Regions from separate parts of the Homo sapiens genome. Here regions 1, 2, 3 and 5 are each reported to be linked to region 4. Evidence: microRNA targets listed by miRTarBase, many of them from high-throughput screens and not tested one by one. Region 4 holds a microRNA gene; each other region holds the end of a gene's coding sequence.

Region 1 (5,030 bases), not on the chromosome of region 4:
GGATATACACACTTACAAAGAGTTCTCTGACCAAGCCAAATAATAGGCCAAAGAGTTGATCTCATGAAAAAAAAACTTAAGAAGGCAAAGTCATACAGCGTAAGTCTAATACAAGATTTTAGAAGTTCTAAATTATCGAGTCTTTTTTTCTTTTTTTTGAGATGGAGTTTCACTCTTGTTGCCCAGGCTGGAGTGCAATGGCACGATCTCAGCTCACTGCAACCTCTGCCTCCCGGGTTCAAGCGATTCTCCTGCCTCAGCCTACTGAGTACCTGGGATTATAGGCACACGCCACCACGCCCGGCTAATTTTGTATTTTTAGTGGAGATGGGGGTTTCTCCATGTTGGTCAGGCTAGTCTCAAACTCCCGACCTCAGGTGATCTGCCTGCCTCGGCCTCCCAAAGTGCTGGGATTACAGGTGTGAGCCACCACACCCAGCCAATTATTTTTTTCTTTAATTAAAAAAATTGTTTTTTTGAGACAGGGTCTTACTCTGTTGCTCAGGCCGGAGTACAGTGGCACAATCAGGGCTCATTGATGTCCTGGGCTCAAGCAATCCTCTCACCTCAGCTTCCTGGGTACCTGGGACTACAGCTGCATGACACTGTGCCCAGCTAATTTTTTTTAAATTTATTTTTTTGTAGAGACAGGGTCTCACTATGTTGTCCTGGCTGGTCTTGAACTCCTGGGCTCAAGTGATCCTCCCACCTCAGTCTTCCAAGAGCTGGGATCACAGCTGTGCCCACATCAAGTCTTTTCGTTTTGTTTTGTTTTTTGAGATGGAATTTCGCTTTTGTCACCCAGGCTGGAGTGCAGTGGCGTGATCTTGGCTCACTGCAACCTCCGCCTCCTGGGTTCAAGCAATTCTCCTGCCTCAGCCTCCTGAGTAGCTGGGATTACAGGTGCACGCCACCACGCCCAACTAATTCTTGTATTTTTAGTAAAGACGGGGTTTCACTGTGTTGGCGAGGCTGAGTCTTGAACTCCTGGCCTCATGTGATCCGCCCACCTTGGCCTCCTAAAGTGCTGGGATTACAGGCATGAGCCACCATGCCCGGCCTCACATCAAGTCTTTTAAAGAAACAATAGCAAAGATTCACATTGTCTTTTAGTTTAGTAAATACCTCATTCATTGTCATATTCACTTAGTTCATTAAATGGACAAAAATATATTAAATCATTTTTTCCATGTGTTAAAACATTCAAGTACATTATTGAAAAGTGGCAATGAAACTCTGTCTCCACCTCTCAAAGAACTGGGATGACAGGCATGAGCCACAGTGCCCAGCCCTGTTTCTGAAGTTTTTACAGAGAAGGAAGGTGACTGGGGATAAACTGGGATTAAGCCTAGATCGCTCCCAGTGCTGTCTGGCTTTTGAATCCTATGTCTCTTAACTGAATAAGATTCTGAAGTCATAAAGATTCAGGGGCTCTCAAGCACAGAGAAGCACTTTCTCCATTCATTATACTCCTTTTCTAAGAGAAATTAACACAGTGATCTGACACCTACTGCAGAATTTTCCAATTAACCGAACTCCTACTACCAGCAATTTATGTGAACAAAAACTTTTGAGACTATTTCCATCAATGTAACTATGTTCAAAAGGCTATTACTAATAGCTGTAAATTAAGGTTTGTAGTGATGAAATAACATCTGAGATTGACAATATTTCAGTGGAAAAGAAAAAAAAAGATAGGTGAAGCAAATACAGCCAAGTTTTATAATTATTAATCTAGGGGATAGGCATTGTGAGGTTCACCGTATTACTCCATGTTACTTTTGTGTGGGCTTGAGATTTTCATAATGAGACTTTTTATTAAAACAAACGAGCTTTAGGAAATACAGTTCATCATTAATATAGGTCTATGGCTTTATGAATAGGACAGAAAGCTTTGCTGAAAGAAATTAAGGCTGATCTTGAATCTGGGCTCCTTACTAGGTTTGCAAAAACCATTTTTCTTTTTCAAAGGAAGGAAATAACACAAATCCATACACTATCTGAGAGGTGAACATACAATAGATTTTTAAACTTTAGCTTAAAATTAGAGAAATCTAATTTTTTCAGAAAAAAAAAATCACCATGTTGTATCCTGACCTGGACACAGAGGCTGTATTACTTGGAAAACGTGAATGTGGATACTAGTTTAGCTTTTAGTTCAGAAGAAATAAGGGAAGAGCGTCGATTCCAAGGATCCAGATTCCTTAATCTTTTTCTCAGATTTAAGGAGTTTTTCTCACAGGGTTTTAACTCTGTACTGTCAGAGGCATGTGAACCAGAGCAACTCCTGTCTTGAATAGCAGCTGGGTAAAATGAGGCTGAGACCTGCCAGGCTGCATTCTCAGATGGTTAAGGCATTCTAGGTCACAGGATAAGACAGGAGGTCGGCACAAGATTCAGGTCATAAAGATCTTGCTGATAAAACAGGTTGCAGTAAAGAAGCCGACTAAAACCCACCAAAACCAAGATGGCAATGAGAGTGACCTCTGGTCTTCTCACTGCTACACCCCCACCAGCGCCATGACAGTTTACAAATGCCATGGCAATGTCAGGACGTTAGCCTATATGGTCTGAAAGGGGCAGGCATGAATAATCCACCCCTTGATTAGCATATCACCAAGAAATAACCATAAAAATGGGCAGCCAGCAGCCCTCGGGGCTGCTTTGTCTATGGAGTAGCCATTCTTTTATTCCTTTACTTTCCTAATAAACTTGCTTTCACTTTACTCTGTGGACCTGCCTGGAATTCTTTCTTGCGCAAGATCCAAGAACCTTCTCTCACGGTCTGGATCAGGACCCCTTTCCTGTAACAGTACTGCCAGTTACAGAAGTAAGCAGATGGAGGTCTCTTTCTGAAGGTCATACCTCAAACAAAATCAATCCTTTTTTGTGGTGCAGAAACCAGTCCACCCCCAGAGGACACAAAATATGCTGGGCTGAGGCCTCTTCCTCCCTGGCCCCTTCTCTGTTCGCCGTCTCCCCTATGGGCCTCTCAGGCTCCTCTCTGCCATGCTTTCCCCACTGGGTCCATCATGACAGCCTACGCTGGGATCTCAGGGATCCAAAAAGCAAAAGCACCCCCTGGGTCTATGGGGACAATCATTCTTGTTCTTATGCAAAGTCTGGCTTGGGGAACTGTAATTTCGATCTAAGTCACTGGTACTGGATTAGAAATAAAAGAGGAGTTAGACAGCAACAAACTCTCCTACTTTATTTATTTTGTATACATTTCATGATCCTGGGGATTACATTGACATTACTTTTGTCTCTACTTTTTCTTCAAATAGAGATTAAGACTCAGTTAAAAATGTACTTTATTAACACTGATGCCATGAAAACTTCTTTTTAAAAATGAGGTATTTGGCTTACTGTCCCAAACAGTAGAGGTTTGGGCAAACTGCAGAAATGGTCTAGTAAGTAAGAAAATGAAAGTGAATACACTGAAACATAAAACAGAAGCAGGATTTGACAATATGCTGCTCTGACACCCTGAGAATCTTTACTGCAGGCAAAATAAATCCACCACCTTTTATCTCTAAAAGCAAAACCCAGCATGATTTCTTCCTAGGGCATACATTTCTATTCAGAAAAGACCACAGAATAAAGAGGTGAGTTAATATGAGAAAGGTAAAGACACTAAGATCATTCTTTTTGCCCCTTTCCCCACCCCAATAAAAAAATACTCATTAAGGGGCCACTATTTCCCTTGCTTTCAAATTATCTTAGAAAATATTTAGAATTACACAACAGCAGCATTTACAAGTGAATTTATATAGAACTGTTGTCAAGGCTCAAAATATCATGAGAGCTCTTGAAAAAAACAGTTGAGGTATTTCACATAAAAAACTGAACAATCAGGTTAGCCACGCCCAAAATGATGATGAAAACGTGGAAGATTAATTTAGGCCATGTCAGACGCTCTTCTTGGTGGAGGGAAATTATATAGATGAGAGATGGGTATATGAATACAAAGGCCAGTCCACATGCTGCTCCTGAATATCTGCAAAATAAAAGCTTTTGGGGTTAATATTCATCTTGCACTTTGCTTTTTACAATTAAGGTAAACATAGTACAATTTAAATCCTCCTCAGTCTGATAGCTCAACAAAAATTATTTTTGATTCATTTGTTGTTGACATAAAACATCTGGGTTTAAAACTTACTTTACTTGCTAAGTTAATATAAAATATGATTTCCTGCTCATCTTTATAGCATCTGCTTAACAAAGACTTTTTATTCATCCCTCAAATCTCTGTAGTTCCTCTGTATTTGGTGATTGTGGCTACTTCCTCAGAAACATCTGGAGCTAGGCCTCCTATCTTTGATCTTTTATAAACTAATTACTCATTCTCAGTTTTTGAGGGACCGTTAGCATCCCGGTTTAAGTATAAGAACAGATAAATGCTACCATGGCATTCAGCATGATTACGAAAGATAATAACAAAAATACTTAAACATGAGACTGTGACAGAGAAATATGCACTTTCTTCTCCTTTTCTCTATACTTGGGTTTTCTTGAGGAACAGTTCAATAGGAACTGGTAAGCCCTTTATATTCAATAAGCATCAGGCTAACAATCTCCCCTTCTTGTTCCTTGTTACTTTCTTAGGTAAGAGTGTTCCAAAAAAAATGACTCCTTCCTGCTGTCCATAGTAAGAGAAATCAGATCATTCTAAATCCCAATTTCCCATGAGAATTTGAGGTACAACTTTATTCCTACTCTATTCATCCTGTCACGTTTTTAGGAAAAGGATATTAAAGAAAGCCATCTAGGGTCTAAATTCTTACTTAAACTCTTACTTTTTGACTACAATTGACATTGAAAAATACTTTTGAGTAGAAATGGATTAAGGAACTTAGAATGGATTAAGGAAGCTCTGACAAATAAAGGACCTCCCAGGTAATCCCAAAAAGTTATACATATATTAAAAATAACTTTTTATTTTGGATATAGAGAGGAAATAAAGTGGAAGATGATGAGAGAAAGAAAAAGAAAATGATGCCTGAGGCTAAGGGATAATGGAGCTTCTA
Region 2 (5,030 bases), not on the chromosome of region 4:
ACCTAATAAGCTGTCCAAATTTTGTGTCCACAGGGCTGAGGAGCTACAGTCTAAATGCATACGCATGTTGGGAACCGAAGTCAGCCATCTTCCCTAGGACAAATCTTTACTCTTCTAAAGAAGGACAAGAATAAGGTCTACTTTCAGCTAACCATTTATAAGGTTCAGTTTTCATTGGATCAAAGGAATATAATCTAATACTTTTTAAATGGGGTCAAAACAGTATTATAAGGAAAATATTTACTGCAAATATTTATAATTGTGTAAGGAGAATCATTCTTTTTAAAATCAAGTTGTGTTTTAGCTTTAGAATCTTTTAAAATCACAAGTATTTGAGAATCCATCCCCACAAAAATTAAAAAATACTATATTAGTTATTTTAAACAGTATTCATTACTTTTACTGTTTATGTTATAATAAACTTATGTATATAAACATTTGAATATGCATGGTACAAAGTACAAGTACAGAACATGTAGTAAGTAGTATGTGCATGTATGTGTGTGTGTGCATATCGTATAAAAATATGAGAAAAATTTTACTTATATAAAAACATATATATAAATAAGTGTTCAGGAGAGTTTTTGAGAATCTGCTTTACATACTGCAATTTTGAGTGAAAATTATGGATATTAATTTCCTGATTAAAGGAACTGTGTCTTCTCATGATGAGTCCTAAAAATAAGCCAAAATACTACTTAATCTCCATCACTTTTTTTCTTAATTACTGGCTGACTTTTTTTCTGCGTGAAATGGCATTACAATGGCAGGGAAATTTAATAATGCAAAAATCACTTTTGAAAATGAGAAAGAATAATTCTAGTTACCTTTTAAATTGATACTTTTAAAGAGAAATTCAAATCAAAAATAAATAAATTAAAGTCTGAGACCAATTTGCCACTGTGAATATAAGCACATTAACCCCAGGAAGAGCCAAGAACTACACAAACCTCTCTATGAGAATTTACCAGTCTTCTTTCATTTGGCAAGAAAAAGCTCAGGAAAATTTGCTTGTTTAAATTCTATGAGCCTAGTCTATGGGGAAAAAAAAAATAGGAATATGAAAGAAATTCTTACCTCCAGCAACATATCATAGGGAGAGATGTGGACAAATGAACAATATTTACTGGAAATAGGAATTATAAATCAAATTTTGAAAACCCTATGCTAAGGAAGGAAGGAGTTATTATAAATTCACTCAGAGACCCAAACGTTAGGTTCAGCTAAAGAAATGTCAGTCTTGGATATATATTAAATGTTTTCAAGAGCAAAATTGAAATTACTGAATTGGAAATGCTCCAAATTATAGGTCATCATTTCTACTTTGGACAATTTTTTATGAATTCTATGTTTGCCTTTAATAATTTTAATTGGTATAATTCTTTCAAAAATCCTTATTTTCAAATGGACAAAAATTAAAGGATGAAACATACTCTGGCCATGACTAACCATTTTACCTTAGATGTTTATAAATAACAGTTCAAAATTTCATCATTATATTACTCTCATTTGTAAGTTCCACTATATATATATATATATATATATAAAAAGTGTGTGTGTGTGTGTGTATATATATATATATATATATACACACACACACACACACACACATACACACACATATATATATATATATAATCTTTTTTTTTTGGAGATGGAGTCTGACTTTGTCACCCAGGCTGGAGTACAGTGGTGCAATCTTGGCTCACTGCAACCTCCGCCTCCCGGGTTCAAGCAATTCTCCTGCCTCAGCCTCCTCAATAGCTGAGATTACCAGCATGTGCCACCATGCCCAGCTAATTTTGTATTTTTAGTAGAGATGGGGTTTCTCCATGTTGGTCAGGCTGGTCTAGAACTCCCGACCTCAGGTGATCCACCCCCTCAGCCTCCCAAAGTGCTGGGATTACAGATGTAAGCCACCATGCCCGGCTCACAGTATTTTCTAATACTGGCAAAACAACATCTTCTGAACACAAACACTTATCCACAGATTCTCATTTCAATTTTCTTCTTATCAGTTGTCTCTTTTGCAAGTTGAATGATAATTAAGGTGTGGAAATTACTGACAAAGCCTAGATATAGAAGTGGAAATTTTCTAGAAACATCAGTTGTAAATCTTATTTACAGCGACATTTCTTTTGCAATTTTTATGTTAATATATGCCTTTTCCTAATTAATCTGGACAGTTTCATCTGAAGAGATATTTTAACAGAAGAATATAAAATGTATAAAGAAAATGCACAAACTGTCAAAATTCATCATCGTGTAAAAATAGCCATAAATTTAAAAAACTTCAGAATTACTAACATTGCATGTAGATATGATTACAGATATGGGACTATTATTTTGAACATCTTCTTTGTTGGTGATTTCTCTCATGTTGATAATGTAATTTGAAGGCTTAAAATGCATATGTTTAGATAGACTCATCAGGGGTAAGTTATTAGTGAAACAGGTGGTTGTTCTAATGAGGATTTAATACCAAACTAACTCTTGCTCTAAGATGTGTTATACACTTTCCTGATCAAACTGATGTGAAAAAAAAAAATGACAGATAACTAAAACTTCCTGATAATGAATGAAAAAACATCTGACATAATAAATTCTCAAGGATTTTTACTTAAACATAACTCCTGGATGTGTCTCATAAACAGTAGCCCCTAGAAACTCTTCTTTAATGTATTCAACAATCCCCACTGACCTTTGTTCAAAGTGCTCTGGGTATAATCCATTAAAGCATGAGTGTTTGTTATCTAAATTGGTATCTAAGGGGAAGCAATGCAATGTCAATGTAAAATAAATTTCTTTCTCTCCTCTTTGCCATAATCATGATGTATGCTTTTTTTCAGAATTGAAAACACTTTTCACAGTATAGACATCTATAGTGTGTAAAACCATCTTTACAAAACCCATATATACAGAAAAATCTCAGTCTTCAATTTGAAGGTTCTTTGCCGTGCTAACATATGTTGTAGAGAATGACCACATAGTAATTGTCTAGTCTTTTCTCCTAACCCCAATAGGTAGGTATCAGAGACTCAAGAATTGTGCGACTCATAGAATAACTGCATATTCACTTTCTATAACTACATAGAGTTATAACTAAATTTCTTAGAAATTAGTTCGAATATGCTAAAATATATGAATAAAAATAACTGACTCCTTTTGTTTATCACCAAAGTTGTAATTCTCTAGACTTTCAGAAAATGAAGTAAAAATCCCTATTTTGTGTCTCCCCTTGGGCAGATTGCCAAGATCTCAAGTCCATTAGTTCATAACTTATCTTCTTCTGGTACAACTTCCAGTATTATTTGTAATGTTCTGGTTATTTTCTCTACAAAGAAATAAAAATGAATTAAAAATGCATGGAAATCAGAAATGCATTAAAAATAGCAAAATATGAATTATTTTGGGTTGAATACCAAAAACACACAACTGTCTACTTCATAGAGCACTTTCAAGAATTATTTACTTCATTAGAATTCTATCATGCTCAATTAATTTATTTGTCACTTCTGTAACTTCCCATGATGGCTTCTCAGCAAGAATACATTAATATTTTGCATTCAAATAAGGATTTTTATTCATGGACCAGAAGGGTGAAAATATTTTGAAACAGTAGGACCAATATATAAATAAATGTTTAAAAATACACTTTATATCAGTTTAAAATTGGTTTATTCTTTTTGCACCTATGAGATTACAATCAGTTCCTCAGAAGAATCTGGAGGAGAATCAGAATGTAATTTTCATTCTCTAACTTGTAACATGTTATTGAGAATGTTGTCTTATCTCCTAGGGCCTAATTTGCCTAATCAGTAGAATGAGAGACTAAATCAGTGATTCTCAAAGTGCGGTCCCTGGACCAACAAAATTAGCATCAACTACCATACTAGAAATGCATCTTTTCAAGCTCGATCCTAGACCTACTCAATTAGAAACTGAAGATGGGGCCTAGCAGTCTGTAATTCTGATAGACACAAAAATGTAGGAACTGAGGGCATCCCAAGAAAGGCTGGCTCCAGTGTTCAGAAGGAAGTCTACCTTTTTTCCTTCAGAACCATTGAGCTAGATGATTTCTAAGGTCATTTTATCTTAGCAGTTCTAGAACTCTATGACCTTGGTTTCTGGGGACATTAGTTCTTGTTTGCCTCTTTTTTTGTTTTGTTTTGATTTTTTGAGGCGGAGTTTCACTCGTTGCCCAGGTTAGAGTGCAATGGTGCGATCTCGGCTCACTGAAACCTCCACCTCCCAGATTCACGCGATTCTCCTGCCTCAGCCTCCCAAGTAGCTGGGATTACAGGCATGTGCCACCACATCCGGCTAATTTTGTATTTTTAGTAGAGACGGGGTTCCACCATGTTTGTCTGGGTGGTCTTGAACTCCTGGCCTCAAGTGATTTGCCTGCCTCGACCTCCCAAAGTGCTGGGATTACAGGTGTGAGCCACCATGCCCAGCCAGTTTGCTTCTTATCTTTGTAATGAATTCCTACAGAACCTTTTCAATGTCCTGCTAGTCCTGGAGCTGTTTACAGCCTGACCTCTTGATGGTTTCAGGCCCAGATAGTCTTTCATCTGGACATAGAGTCTTTCTCCTCATTCATGGCTTGTTATCTGTAATAGCTCCTTTCAAGCCATATTTAATGACATTTTAAAAGGTATTTTTTTCAGGCCGGGTGCAGTGGCTCATGTCTGCAATCCCAGCACTTTGGGAGGCTGAGGTGGGTGGATCACCTGAGGTTGGGAGTTCGAGACCAGCCCCACTAACATGGAGAAACCCCATCTCTACTAAAAATACAAAATAAGCTGGGTGTGATGGTGCATGCCTGTACTCCCAGCTACTCAGGAGGCTGAGGCAGGAGAATCACTTGAACCCAGGAGGCAGAGGTTGCTGTAAGCCGAGATTGCACCATTACACTCCAGCGTGGGCAACAAGAATGAAACTCCATCTCAAAAAAAAAAAAAAGTATTTTTTTCATCCTTTTCTTCTGTGTTTGTCAAAGATACTGTCCTCAGCCCACTAATTTTACA
Region 3 (3,000 bases), not on the chromosome of region 4:
AGCCACAGCAGTCCTCCTTTTCTGGAGAGTTCCGACCCTGTTGACTCCCCTGCATCCTGCACGGCACTTCCCTCCACCAAAGTCCCTCCGTGGCAGGCCTGGGCCATAGCTAAGGGGAGCTGATAACATGCGCCTTATTTAAAAGCCACAAAACTATCTTCTCAAAGTAATCCTTCTGTGAGCTGTTCACCACATCAGCCTGGCCTGATGCCCCACTTGGCCTCAGTCAGCATGGCTTGGCTCTGAGGCCAGAAGATAGGAAGGACGCTGCTTTTATGTCCTTGTAGTCCACTCCAGCCTAGCCTGGCACAGAGGACAGGTTAAGCCCCCTCAGTCCTGGCCCCGAATGTCTGCTTGGTTTGGCGCAATCCAGCGCCCCTGACCTGCTCTGTCTTTTTTCCCAGGAAAGAGCATCTACGGTGAGCGCTTCCCCGATGAGAACTTCAAACTGAAGCACTACGGGCCTGGCTGGGTGAGCATGGCCAACGCAGGCAAAGACACCAACGGCTCCCAGTTCTTCATCACGACAGTCAAGACAGCCTGGCTAGATGGCAAGCATGTGGTGTTTGGCAAAGTTCTAGAGGGCATGGTGAGTTGTGGAAGCAAGGGCTACTACTGGGCAATCCTCACCGGGGATTCAACACAGACCCCAGGGCAGGAGCTCCATGTGTCCATCCCTTTCCCAAAAGGACCCAACCCACAGATGCAGCCCAGTGCTCCTGTCCAGAATAAACCCTGTACCTCCATGCCTCCAAGGTTCTAAATTCTTCCAGCCCCCTCAGAGCCCAGCCAGGAAGGCTGCACAACTGCCAGAGCCTCCCTCCCCTCCTTCACTCAGTGACGTGCTGGTCCCACCCCTGAGGTATACAGAGTGCAGCTGAACGCAATGTCCCTGAGAAGCCACATGCCCTGGTCACCCTCTTCCTCCTCCTCACCCTTGGCCCAACCTGGGTCTTACTTCAAAGGAACAAAATTCCTGTACCCCCTCGTCAAATCTGCATTCTCCCTGCTCTGGCCAGGAGTCTGTTAGAATTTTGGTGCCTCCAGTTTTGTGTGCTGTTGATCACTTGTGGGTCTTAGCCCTCCTGAGCCATACGCTGGGGCCTTTCTCCTGAGCGGTGGACCTCCTGATCCACCATGCCCTCCTGCTTCCACCTTTCTTTTCCAGGAGGTGGTGCGGAAGGTGGAGAGCACCAAGACAGACAGCCGGGATAAACCCCTGAAGGATGTGATCATCGCAGACTGCGGCAAGATCGAGGTGGAGAAGCCCTTTGCCATCGCCAAGGAGTAGGGCACAGGGACATCTTTCTTTGAGTGACCGTCTGTGCAGGCCCTGTAGTCCGCCACAGGGCTCTGAGCTGCACTGGCCCCGGTGCTGGCATCTGGTGGAGCGGACCCACTCCCCTCACATTCCACAGGCCCATGGACTCACTTTTGTAACAAACTCCTACCAACACTGACCAATAAAAAAAAATGTGGGTTTTTTTTTTTTTAATATATAATGTGTGGGCCTGGTTCTTGAGCCTGCAGCACCTCCCCTAGGCCTACATCCCAACATGCCTGCAACTCTCCTGTGGCAATGGGTGCCTGCCCCTTCCCTGGGATCCTGCCTGAAATTTTGACCCAGGAGCTACCCAGGAAAAGTCAGGCAGGAGCTTTTGCCCCCTGCTTCTAAACTTTGCCAGCTACTGGGCCTCCACATTTGCTCCCCTTGCCACCACCCTCCAGTCTATGTTAAGGGATGTATCTGTACTTTTTCATAGCCTACCTCTAAATTGATTTTTTTTTTTTTTTTTTTTTTTTGGTAGAGACAGGTCTCACTATGTTGCGCTGGCTGGTCTCAAACTTCCAGACCCAAGCATCCTCCTGCCTTGGCCTCCTAAAGTATTGGGATTACAGGCATGAGCCTCTGCACCCAGCTGACTTCTTCCTTTATTATTTATTTATTTTGAGACGGAGTTTCACTCTTGTTGCCCAGGCTGGAGTGCAGTGGCGCGATCTCGGCTCACCACAACTTCCGCCTCCTGGCTTCAAGAGATTCTCCTGCCTTGGGCCGAGCACGGTGGCTCACGCCCGTAATCCCAGCACTTTGGGAAGCCGAGGCGGGTGGATCACCTGACGTCAGGAGTACAAGACCAGCCTGGCCAACGTGGTGAAACCCATCTCTATTAAAAATACAAAAATTAGCCGGGCATGGTGGCGGATGCCTGTAATCCCAGCTACTCGAGAGGCTGAGGCAGGAGAATTGCTTGAACCCGGGAAGCGGGGGTTGCCGTGAGCCGAGATCGTGCCATTGCATTCCAGCCTGGGCAACAAGAGTGAAACTCCGTCTCAAAAAAAAAAAAAAAAAAAAAAAAGAGATTCTCCTACCTCAGCTTCCCGAGTAGCTGGGATTACAGGCATGCACCACCACAATGCCCGGCTAATTTTGTATTTTTAGTAGAGACGGGGTTTCTCCATGGTGGTCAGGCTGGTCTCGAACTCCTGACTTCAGGTGATCCACCCATCTTGGCCTCCCAAAGTGCTGGGATTACAGGCATGAGCCACCGCGCCTGGCTGACTTCCTCTTTTATTACTTATCTTCTTGACCCTGCCTTGGCTGTTGGGCTCTAAGAGCATACAAATTCTACCACCTCCAGCTACCAATGCGAGCCAAGTTCTGAGCCTTGAGTGGGAATGTGGCACAACTGGGCACTGGGTAATTAAGTCCTGGGTCCAGGCCAAAGGAGGACCCAGCCTTATATGGAGTTCATAGGACAGAGGCACATGACTTTCTTAGGAGGCAGCCAAAGGCCTCTGGACTGATCAGGGCATCGGTGGCAGAGGAGCAGGGTGACAGGCCGCCTTTGGCTGGGCTTTATCTGGGCTGATGCTGAAGCTGTAGAGGCCCTGGAGCACACCATTCACCACCACGTTGGGCAGCGACTCTGTGGGATAGAATTAAACAGGTCTGGCCTCAGACCTGCAGCTCCTTGAGCTCCTGCTCATGGGCTCAGCCCC
Region 4 (5,030 bases):
TGAACACTCACAAGGAGACATTCTTATATGGCTCATCCCTCTCTAATTTACAGGTTTTCCCTCAGAATCCACTGACAAAGCAGATGGGGAGATGAGGATATTGATCGCATACTGGCGTGATTAACCCAGGTTCTACACAGATTCGACTGTGAAGCATGAGATTTCACAAAATAACTAGGCCAAAGGAGGCTGCAGGTACAGGACAGAACTTTAGACTTAAGAGATCCATGTTGAGTTGTGGCTGGAGGACCAGACGATTCCAGAACCCTTTAGACTCTGTTTGTCAAACCGATCATCTTTGCCCCATGTTGTATGGATCAAATGAAATGGCATGTGATATGGTTTGGCTGAGTCCCCATCCAGATCTCGGCTTCAATTGTATCGCACAGAATTCCCACGTGCTGTGGGAGGGACCCAGGGAAAGGTAATTGAATCATGGGGGTCAGTCTTTCCCCTGCTATTCTCATGATAGTGAATAAGTCTCACGAGATCTGATGGGTTTATCAGGGGTTTCCACTTTGGCTTTTTCCTCATTTTCTATTGCTGATGCCACGTAAGAAGTGCCTTTCATCTCCCGCCATGATTCTGAGGTCTCCCTAGCCATGTGGAACTGTAAGTCCAATTAAACCTCTTTTTCTTCCCAGTCTCGGGTATGTCTTTGTCAGCAGCATGAAAACACAGACTAATACAGTGTGCATGAGCGTGATCTGTATAACAGTAGAGCCCTCTATTAATGCCTGTTCAATTAGAGCCTTTGCCAAAAAAATACACACAAAAAGGAATGTCAGTGTCTCAATTATTTCAGGGAGTCTGATTCTCTTCTTGACAGTAGATGGTGCCAGGAGGGAAGAAATGAGAGGTGGTAAGAGATGCAGGGCAGGCAGGGGTGCTCTTCTTCTTCTTTGGACAGAGGCATCTCATGACCTTGAAGCCTTTGTAGTGTATCATAAATGTGTGGGCTGCATTCAGGTGAGGCTTTCCAGCAAGGGACTCAGAATTATTTCGCAAAGTTTTGCTCATTTGGCTCCCGTTTGGAACAATTACAATGGTCCCAAAATATAATGCGAGCCAGTGAATGCCCATCTCTGGAAATAACATCAGACACATTTAATTTAAAAGTGTCTTCAATGCCTAGGACAGTGTCAGGCACACGGTAGTCTCTACACATATTTATTTCATAAGTGAATGGTTGAATGGTTGAATTTGTTTCTGATGGTTGATCTAACCCTGTCTATTTGATTAAACATGTCCTACTTCATTTAACCAAGCCTGGGGAGGGAAGCTTTAGTCTGGCACAAACGAAACCTACTCCTGACTTTAGACACCTCTCAGAGACAGAATGGGTTCCAAACCAGAGCACCTGGCTGGGCCAACTGTCCTAGAAACTGCATGGGTCCCAGATTTGCTATGGCAGCTCACACATGCTTCATAAACAATTTTCTGATGGTAATTCACTGATGCAAGAGGAAGAAAGGCCTAGTGTACGAATTCAGTAATCAGCCTAGTAATTGATTGAAATCAGTAGAAATCAAACATATTCTAGAATTTCTGAAACGTCAGTGAAACCATGTGTAAGTTTATTAGAAAGTTGGATTTTTTAACGACGAAAAGAGAAGGACCCACACACCTTAATTTTGTACCTATAAGCTTGCGGTCTGTCTGCATAACATAGATTTAGCCCAGTCTTAGCCTTCTGCGTCTAACACTTTCCTAACTATTCATTTTAAGTCTATAAGCATGGGTTAAATGATTACCTCGTGCCTGGCCTTGTGTTGGGGGCTCTGAGGAACTCTGCAATCTTTTTATTTTCATTTTTTGAGACAGGATCTTGCTCTGTCACACAGGCTGGAGTGCAGTGGTACCATCACAGCTCACTACAGCCTCAACCTCGTGGGCTCAATTGATCCTCCCACCTCAGCCTCTCAAGTAGCTGAGATTACAGGCACATGCCACCATGCCTGGCTAATTTTTGTAGTTTTTGTAGAGACACGGTTTCACCATGCTGCCCAGGCTGGACTTGAACTCCTGAGCTCAAGTGATCCGCCTGCCTTGGCCTCCCAAAGTGCTGGGATTTCAGGCGTGAGCCACCGTGCCTGGTCTGCAATCTTTTTATTGACTTGGGAAAACAAGAAAATTAATCACCAGCTAAGGTATGTAACAACAGCATGTGAGAGGCAGGGTTCAGCTAACCATATTGGTTATGAGTGCAAAAGAGCCAGACTTTATTCAGTAAGTACACAAGATTGAGAAGACTGATATCAGATGAACCTTCTTGCTCAAAGCAAACGATGCCAAGACATTTATCGAGGGAAGGATTGCCTAGCAGTAGCTATTTAGTGTGATAATGGCGTTTGATAGTTTAGACACAAACACCATTGTCACACTCCACAGCTCTGCTAAGGAAACTCTGTAGCCACGAAGGTGTTAACTTCACCTCCACATTCCACCATTGTCACTGATAATAGGGGAACCTTGTCAGCTCCACATATTGTGACCTAAGCAGAGAAAAGAAGCATCACGGGTACAAGCATCTTGAGCAATGGGAAGAGCTGAACACTCTCAATGAAAGGCTTCTGTGTTCTGGAACAGTAGAGTAGTAGAGGGGTCCACTGCCTGTGTTCCACTGCCACCCAGCAAACCCCTTCTGCAAAAACTTCCTGTGAAAATGGACAGGAACTCTGTTTGCAACAATTTTCTAAAATGGCTGAGAGAGAAAGAATCTCTAGAGGGAATAGATTTCTGGAAATAAATACTTATTGGAAGACTACATTATAAATGAGAATAATCTGGCCGAATGAATGGATACTCTCCAACTCTCACCTCTTCACCTACTTCCCAATCCATCATCAGTAAATGTGATCAATTCTGCAGTCTAGGAAAATTAAAATTATTTTATATGGGGATACAGCAGTTAGATGTGTTGTGATCTACTCTCCGTGGCATCTATTGGATATAAAGGCATCTGGTCTTGCTCAAATGTTCAATCTTCTTGACCACAGTCATTTTCCACCATGGCGGTGGGTGGGAGATGAGGGGAGAGAAGAAAGAGAGGAAGATGGAGAGAGAGGAAACGAGTCCATTTTTAGTTCATGATACTCATTTTCTAGCAAAAAGGGAGCTCCAAATAAATCCCTACAGGATTTACTTGGCTTTCCTGTTAAAGATGGTTTATAATTGTTATGTGAACTCCTGCCCACCATGGAGAATGAGAGGAAATAAAGCATTTTACCTACTCCTTCTTTTCCTGCAAATGCTGAAAAGGGAAAGGGTTGGGAGCCAGTTATTTTTTCCCCAGGATAACTGAGTTGTTAACATCTGACCAGAGTCTTGCTTTAGCCCTAAAACCGGCCCATCTTTAACAGCTGTAAATGAACCCTTCCGTATTTTTCAGAAAAAAAAAAAAAAAATTGCGCCTTATTCTCATGTAGATCCTGAAATCACCCTCTTCAAGCTGGACTTGCAGTGATTATCCCCCTGCGAAAGCTGAAAGTCGTTCTGCTCCCATGGGTTGGAGTGTTGAAGTTGCCTCTTTTTTTCTTTCCCTTTTTCACTTTGTGGATTCGTTATCTTCCCCTAAGTGACTGATTTCCTTTGGTTCCTGTCTGTGGCCCTGGCTTTCTTTCATGAAATGTGGTCATTTGCAAGGCAGCAGGCCGTGCCAGTGCTACACATACTCTCTTAGGTGGGACTCGCCTCCTGGGCAGTTTTCCATGACTCAGAGAGAATGACTACGAACCCTAGAACTGCTCTAGGTGGCCCCAGTCACTGCCACAAACCCCTAGCACTCTGGGTGTGGCCAGCAGTGGACACAGGCATGTGGTGGCCCATCTTGTCCTTCCCTTTCCCTACAGCTCCTCCTAACACAGTAGCCAGGCTTGTCCTGCTTAGTCTTTGCTGAGGGACCTAGAACAGAAATCGCCACCTCCTGGTCATACCAGGGCTATCGCTGACCATCCACAAGAGGCTCTAGAAGTCTCTTAGCTCTGCTGGGAAGAAACAGTGAGAGGTGAACAATTCACTGATTAAAAGGGTCCCCGGAGGATGCGCTTGGAGCGCTCTATCCTGGGCAAGGGCTTGGACCCATTTCACTTCTCAGGGCTCCATAGCAGTATCTGAGCATCCTCCACTTCTCCATGGGGGCTCTGTTGGCTTTTGGCTTTGAATAATCTGCAAAATACAGAAAAGGGAAGGAACAGATGGAAGATGAAAAGAGATGAGGAAGTTAATGCATTACAGGTAAATCTTACCAACTCCCCACCCCCCAAATCAACCTTTACAGGTAAATCTTACCAACTCCCCCCACCCCAAATCAACCTCAATTTCTATGGCCCAGAAATCTATCTCCAGGAAAATGTCAAAAATTTGTAGAAAGATTTACCTATAAGGTTGCTCATAGTGGCATTGTTTATAAGGGTAAACATTGGAAACAACCTAAATGTCCAGCTATAGGAGAAGAGTAATATATTTATGATAGACCATAATTATTTAAATTGATTCTGTAGAAAAGTCTGGTAGACTTGGAAATTCAAGATATGTTATTGAATTAAAAAACAGTTTATAAAACAATATACACAGTATGAGTCCCTTTCTGTGAAAAAATGCATACATGCCTGAGGCCAAAACATCAAATGTTAACCATGGTTATCTTTCAGTAGAGAAATTATGGTTTGTTTTCATTTTCTCCTTTTGTGTGCATTTGTTAATTTATGATTCATATGGCACTTTTTTATTGAGAAAAATGAGGATTTAAAAACTTTTAGGCAATTTTCTTTCTGGACTCTCAATACAAATTCCTTCTTGCAAAATACTCTTCTGAAATTGGGAAGGTTGGAACCCATCCTGCTCATATACAACTTGTCACAAGCATGAAAAGTTAGTGCTGTGCTGAGTGGCAGGCCTCAGGCTAATTTTTTAGCAAATTATTAGTGAAATACTTTATTATGCAGTACAATAATTTTATGGTATTATTGCATCAATCACTAAACACATATTGAGTGCCAATCATTTTCTGTCTTGTGAGCAATTTTTAA
Region 5 (4,760 bases), not on the chromosome of region 4:
CTTAAATCTACCTATTCACACACAGATAAACTGCAATAAAACAAACCACTGTCAACTTAAATTGAGTTACTCTCACTTTTCCTCCATGGTGTCTGGTGTGGGGGCTAATTTTGGACCAGACTGTGACCATCAATCATTCTGATTGGTCAGTGCCTCACCACAGGTTTTGTGGGGTTTTTTGTTTTTTTGTTTTACTATCACCCCTGCTAAATGACAGGAATGCTATATATCTGTATACTGCGTAGAAGAAATTAAGACTCTCACATCAAGTCATATTTTAAATATTGGCAAAAGCTTTTTTATTTTTTTGAGACAGAGTCTCGCTCTGTCACCCAGGCTGGAGTGCAGTGGCAGGATCTCAGCTCACTGCAAGCTCCGCCTCCCGGGTTCATGCCATTCTACTGCCTCACCTCCCGAATAGCTGGGACTACAGGCGCCCGCCACCACGCCCAGCTAATTTTTTGTATTTTTAGTAGAGACGGGGTTTCACTGTGTTAGCCAGGACGGTCTCAATCTCCAGACCTCGTGATCTGCCCGCCTCGGCCTCCCAAAGTGCTGGGATTACAGGCGTGAGCCACCACGCCCAGCCTCACAAAAGCTAATTTTTTTAAGATAAAAAACTAACATACATAGAAATTTTCTCCCCTACCCTTTAACAGAGGCCTGTGCACACCGTCACACATTCTATCTTGGAAGCTACTGGAGTGACAATTCCAGGATTATCCAGAAAGGCAGATTTTGGTTAATTACACAGAACCATCTTTCAAGAAGTGGAGATTTCCAAAAGGATCAGCACTCCTAAGTAAAGGATTCCCCAAATATCGGAAGCAGAAGCAGATGAATGACTGGATGATGGCTCACCTGAGATGCAGAAGCAGGGGCAAATGGATTGGATTCAGCTACTTCAAGATCCTTTCCTTTTCTAAGAGCTCTTTAGTATTATGTTGAAGACTAGTAATGAAGGTGGCACCCTTGTTTCTATGCATAAGGAAACTAACAGGTAATAGAGCCAGACTAGTAGTCAAAAGACCTACCATCAAGCTCAGTGACCTTGGGTAAGTCATTTCATCTTCCTGGCTGTGTTTTTTTCATCTGTAAAACATGGGGCCAGAATTTAATAACTTTTAAGGCCCCATACAGCTCTAATATTCTGGGGTTTTATACGACTCTTCTTCATCAAATATTATGTTGGGTTTTAAAACATACCCTTTTAAAAAATTCTTTTAGTTTTTTTGAAATAGAAAGTGTATTTTAAATGCCTTTTTGGTATATATTATAGTGACAAAAGATTTTATTATTTCTTATTAATGTAATGTGTTTTGTAACTATTACATCAACTTTGAAATTCTGGAGTTACATGAACAATTATTCAAAATATTTCTCTATTCAGTTTTCTAAGATTTTATTCGGATTTTTGCATCTATACTCATAAAAAAATCACCTACATTATCTTACATCCTCTTGCATCATCTTTCTTACATAATTTTATTTTTAAAATGAAAATCCTGTTTACTTCATTAAATGAATTAGTGTCTTATGATCATTTTCTATATTTTGGGAGTATAGGGGTTTTTTGTTTTGTTTTGTTTTGTTTTTTGAGATGGAGTCTTGCTCTGCCACCCAGGCTGGAGTGCAGTGGCTCGATCTCGGCTCACTGCAACCTCTGCCTCCTGGGTTCAAGCAATTCTCCTGTCTCAGCCTCCTGAGTAGCTGGGATTACAGGCATGTGCCACCATGCCTGGTTAATTTTTGTATTTTTTAAGTAGAGACGGGGTTTCACCATGTTGGCCAGGCTGGTCTCGAACTCCTGACTCTGTGATCCGCCTGCCTCGGCCTCCCAAAGTGGTGGGATTACAGGCGTGAGCCACCACACCCGGCCAGGAGTATATGTTCTTTGACAGTTTGGAAAAGTCTCATGAAAGCTTTCACAAGCAAATGCCATTTTAATTGGTTATTCTTAGTTTGTGGGTTATTTCTCATAACCAATCTGGAATATTCTCTGTTAAAAGTGTCAGTTTCATAATTTTTTATCTTTATAAGGAGCTGGGCATATATTAATCACATTTTTTGCAGCAAACTGATAACTCTTTTCAAATCTCATTGATTTTATGTATTGCCTATTCAATTACGAATTTACTAATTTGTACTTTTCTGGCTGAGCTGACACTTTACCCATTTAATCTACAAGAACTACTTAATACTTTTTATTTTTTCTAATTTGTTATTTTTTTCTAATTTGTTTAGTTTTATTATTTCCATTTCCATTCTTTCTAAATTCTAACTATATACCCCTTAAAAAAAACAAAAATATTTCCACTCTATCCCTAATACAGGGATTTAAAGCATGCTTATTTTCTTATAGTACTGCTTTGGTATTATCACACAAATTTTCTTTTATGGCATTTGAACATTTGTTATTTTAAAAATATTATCTTCCGGCACAACCTCTACAACTTAGACGTTATTTAGTGAAGTATTTTTTCCATGTTTTTGATCACCATTTAATTCTATGTATGTTGTTTATTTCCATAAAAAAACAAACCATCAAATAATGTATACATTTCCACCTGTTCTAACATTTCTGGCTACTTTTGTTTCATGTATTTTGTTACGATGTTCTCTAGTGACTAAATTCAGTACAAATACGTTTTCATTATTTAATATAAATTTTATCTTATATTTACTATTAAAATTTTGATTGTGAAAGGTATTATTTTATCACATACATTGTAAGCAATCACTGCTTCTTTAACATTTGTTCCAGCATGAAGAAAACTTAGACCATCCCTTCATTTTAATTTTTTTCTAACTTAAGTATTTCTTTGCTTCTTGTAATGACTGCACTTAGCTTTGTTTTCTAAATTAGTGGTCTTTTCAAAGGTACATTGAGTCCATCTGTATTTAATAATACTGCAATTATTAATACATGTTTATAGAATTAGTACATAAATTAATGCCTTTTCAGATCCTTCACATCCAGCTTTTTTACCTTAAGTTAATATCCATATGTATGAGAAATAAACGTAATCTGATAATGCTTAGTTAACTTGATGATTGGACAATAACAATATGAACTATATTGGATTCACTGTTACTTCCTCTTTATTCCTGCAGTGAAAACAATATTTTCTTATGTCAGATTTCTCTCAATCTCTTAGTCAATGAAGACCTGAACTACAACAATATAGAGTCCCATTTTAAATTCAAACAAAGATATTTAGGTTTGACAACAGACTCATGGTAATGTCATTTAAAAAGATGGATCCAATGAACACAGACAAACATCAAAGTTTTCACCATGGCACAAACCTCTGCCACAATCACTCATAATAATTCAACTGCCTTCATATTTGGCAGTAACGTCATGCAAGTGAATTTGCTGATGATTAGCAAAATTACAAAATGAAAGTCAAGGTCACTTAATCAAGAATTACAGCAACAAAGAAATTCTAGGAATGCAGGTCAAGGCAAGAGGCTGCAGCTGGCCTGATAATGATACCACTTGCCTAATGTTCATTTAGGAATTTGCTATCACAAATAAAACACGTATCTCCTCTGAGTTACTAGAACAGAAAAGGAAACAATCAGGTATTACTTATCACCATTATATGACCATGAAATTAAAATATTTCCTTAATAATGATTAAGAGAAAAAAATCATTCTCATGTGTTCATAATAGAAGCTCTATTTCTGAATTTAAAACACTACTCAGTATTTGCTTAAGTACTGAAATTTAGACAATATAGCTTTTGACATATTAAAAGTTCTATAGGAAAAACTAAGACCTCTTAATTTTGCTTTAATATCAAACTAAACAGAGCAGATGAAAAAATTCAATAAGAGCATGGGTTAATCCGATTCAAGAAGTGCTTCCAAAATTCAACCACCTCGCTTCTTCTTAGGAGAAACTGTACATCAACACAGAACTTTTCTTTTTTTTTTCTTTTTTTTTTTTTGGAGATGGAATCTCACTCTGTCGCCCAGGCTGGAGTGCAGTGGCGCGATCTTGGCTCACTGCAACCTCCACCTCCTGGGTTCAAGCGATTCTCTTGCCTCAGCTTCCCGAGTAGCTGGGATTACAGGCGCCCGCCACCACGCCCAGCTAATTCTTTGTATTTTTAGTAGAGACGGGGTTTCACCATCTTGGCCAGGCTGGTCTCGAACTCCTGACCTCGTGATCCACCCGCCTCGGCCTCCCAAAGTGCTGGGATTACAGGCGTGAGCTACCGCGCCCGGCCCTAACACAGAACTTTTCTAACTTAACTTTTGGAGAAGAAAATAGAAAACCAAACCCAGAGGACAGCTGTGTAAGGTATTTACTCCTCAGCATTAGGCAAAGGAGTCCTACAGCACTCTTACATGTCATTCTATTTCAACAGATGATTCAACTGGTCCTGTAGATCCGATGACTGTTCAACACTAGGAATTAGAATAGAGACAGGGTTTATCTGAAATGAGCAATAATAAAGACATCTTTGTACAACTATTTACAAATTTTTTTTTTCCATTACAGACAGGGTCTCACTATGCTGCACAAGGCAATCTCAAACTCTGGGCTCAAGCAATCCTCCAGCCTCAGCCTTCCAAAGTCCTGCAATTACAGGCATGAGCCAGCCACTACACCTGTCCTGTACAAGCTATCTGTACTTTAATGCATAAATACTGTTGCATGTAAATCAAAATTTATATTGGTCCAGTTGTGTCCCAGAAGTGTTTAAACTCTGAAGAAAGGTTTGCAAAGCCAATTAGTAATGTAAAC

What was found. The annotated mature microRNA hsa-miR-122-5p reads UGGAGUGUGACAAUGGUGUUUG and lies in region 4 at 2,367-2,388, opposite strand. An mRNA with a match to its seed (bases 2 to 7 or 8) in the 3' UTR can be bound and repressed. Matches are read on the target gene's strand: a 7mer-m8 pairs with bases 2 to 8, a 7mer-A1 pairs with bases 2 to 7 and ends in A, and an 8mer does both.
Region 1: the mRNA of SLC38A9 is a reported target of hsa-miR-122-5p. The part of its 3' UTR that is shown has no 7-base or 8-base seed match.
Region 2: the mRNA of SLC7A11 is a reported target of hsa-miR-122-5p. The part of its 3' UTR that is shown has no 7-base or 8-base seed match.
Region 3: miRTarBase lists SNX22 as a target of hsa-miR-122-5p. Seed matches in the 3' UTR shown: 7mer-A1 at 1,981-1,987.
Region 5: the mRNA of BORCS7 is a reported target of hsa-miR-122-5p. Seed matches in the 3' UTR shown: 7mer-A1 at 3,988-3,994.

Annotation. Positions count from the first base shown.
Region 1 is chr5:55,622,660-55,627,689 of GRCh38, forward strand. SLC38A9 (solute carrier family 38 member 9) reads right to left here. Exons shown (of 16, transcript NM_173514.4): 16 at 3,189-4,000. The coding sequence ends at 3,835. Among named protein-coding and RNA genes, the nearest start is that of SLC38A9, 87 kb to the right of the region's middle. RefSeq lists an enhancer at 2,683-3,497.
Region 2 is chr4:138,168,684-138,173,713 of GRCh38, forward strand. It overlaps SLC7A11 (solute carrier family 7 member 11), which reads right to left. Exons shown (of 12, transcript NM_014331.4): 12 at 1-3,334. The coding sequence ends at 3,273. SLC7A11-AS1 (SLC7A11 antisense RNA 1) reads left to right here. Exons shown (of 7, transcript NR_038380.1): 4 at 34-135; 5 at 2,850-3,023. Among named protein-coding and RNA genes, the nearest start is that of LINC00616, 41 kb to the left of the region's middle.
Region 3 is chr15:64,154,314-64,157,313 of GRCh38, reverse strand. SNX22 (sorting nexin 22) reads right to left here. Exons shown (of 7, transcript NM_024798.3): 7 at 1-2,927. The coding sequence ends at 2,806. It overlaps PPIB (peptidylprolyl isomerase B), which reads left to right. Exons shown (of 5, transcript NM_000942.5): 4 at 405-589; 5 at 1,169-1,497. The coding sequence ends at 1,291. Among named protein-coding and RNA genes, the nearest start is that of SNX22, 4.1 kb to the right of the region's middle. RefSeq lists enhancers at 2,868-3,000, 2,903-3,000.
Region 4 is chr18:58,448,446-58,453,475 of GRCh38, reverse strand. It overlaps MIR122 (microRNA 122), which reads right to left and starts at 2,402; the gene lies at 2,318-2,402. MIR122HG (MIR122 host gene) reads right to left here. Exons shown (of 3, transcript NR_170245.1): 2 at 3,936-4,167; 3 at 2,195-2,657. MIR3591 (microRNA 3591) reads left to right here and starts at 2,324; the gene lies at 2,324-2,396.
Region 5 is chr10:102,862,533-102,867,292 of GRCh38, reverse strand. It overlaps BORCS7 (BLOC-1 related complex subunit 7), which reads right to left. Exons shown (of 5, transcript NM_001136200.2): 5 at 2,332-4,420. The coding sequence ends at 4,369. BORCS7-ASMT (BORCS7-ASMT readthrough (NMD candidate)) reads right to left here. Exons shown (of 15, transcript NR_037644.1): 5 at 4,361-4,420. Among named protein-coding and RNA genes, the nearest start is that of AS3MT, 4.6 kb to the left of the region's middle.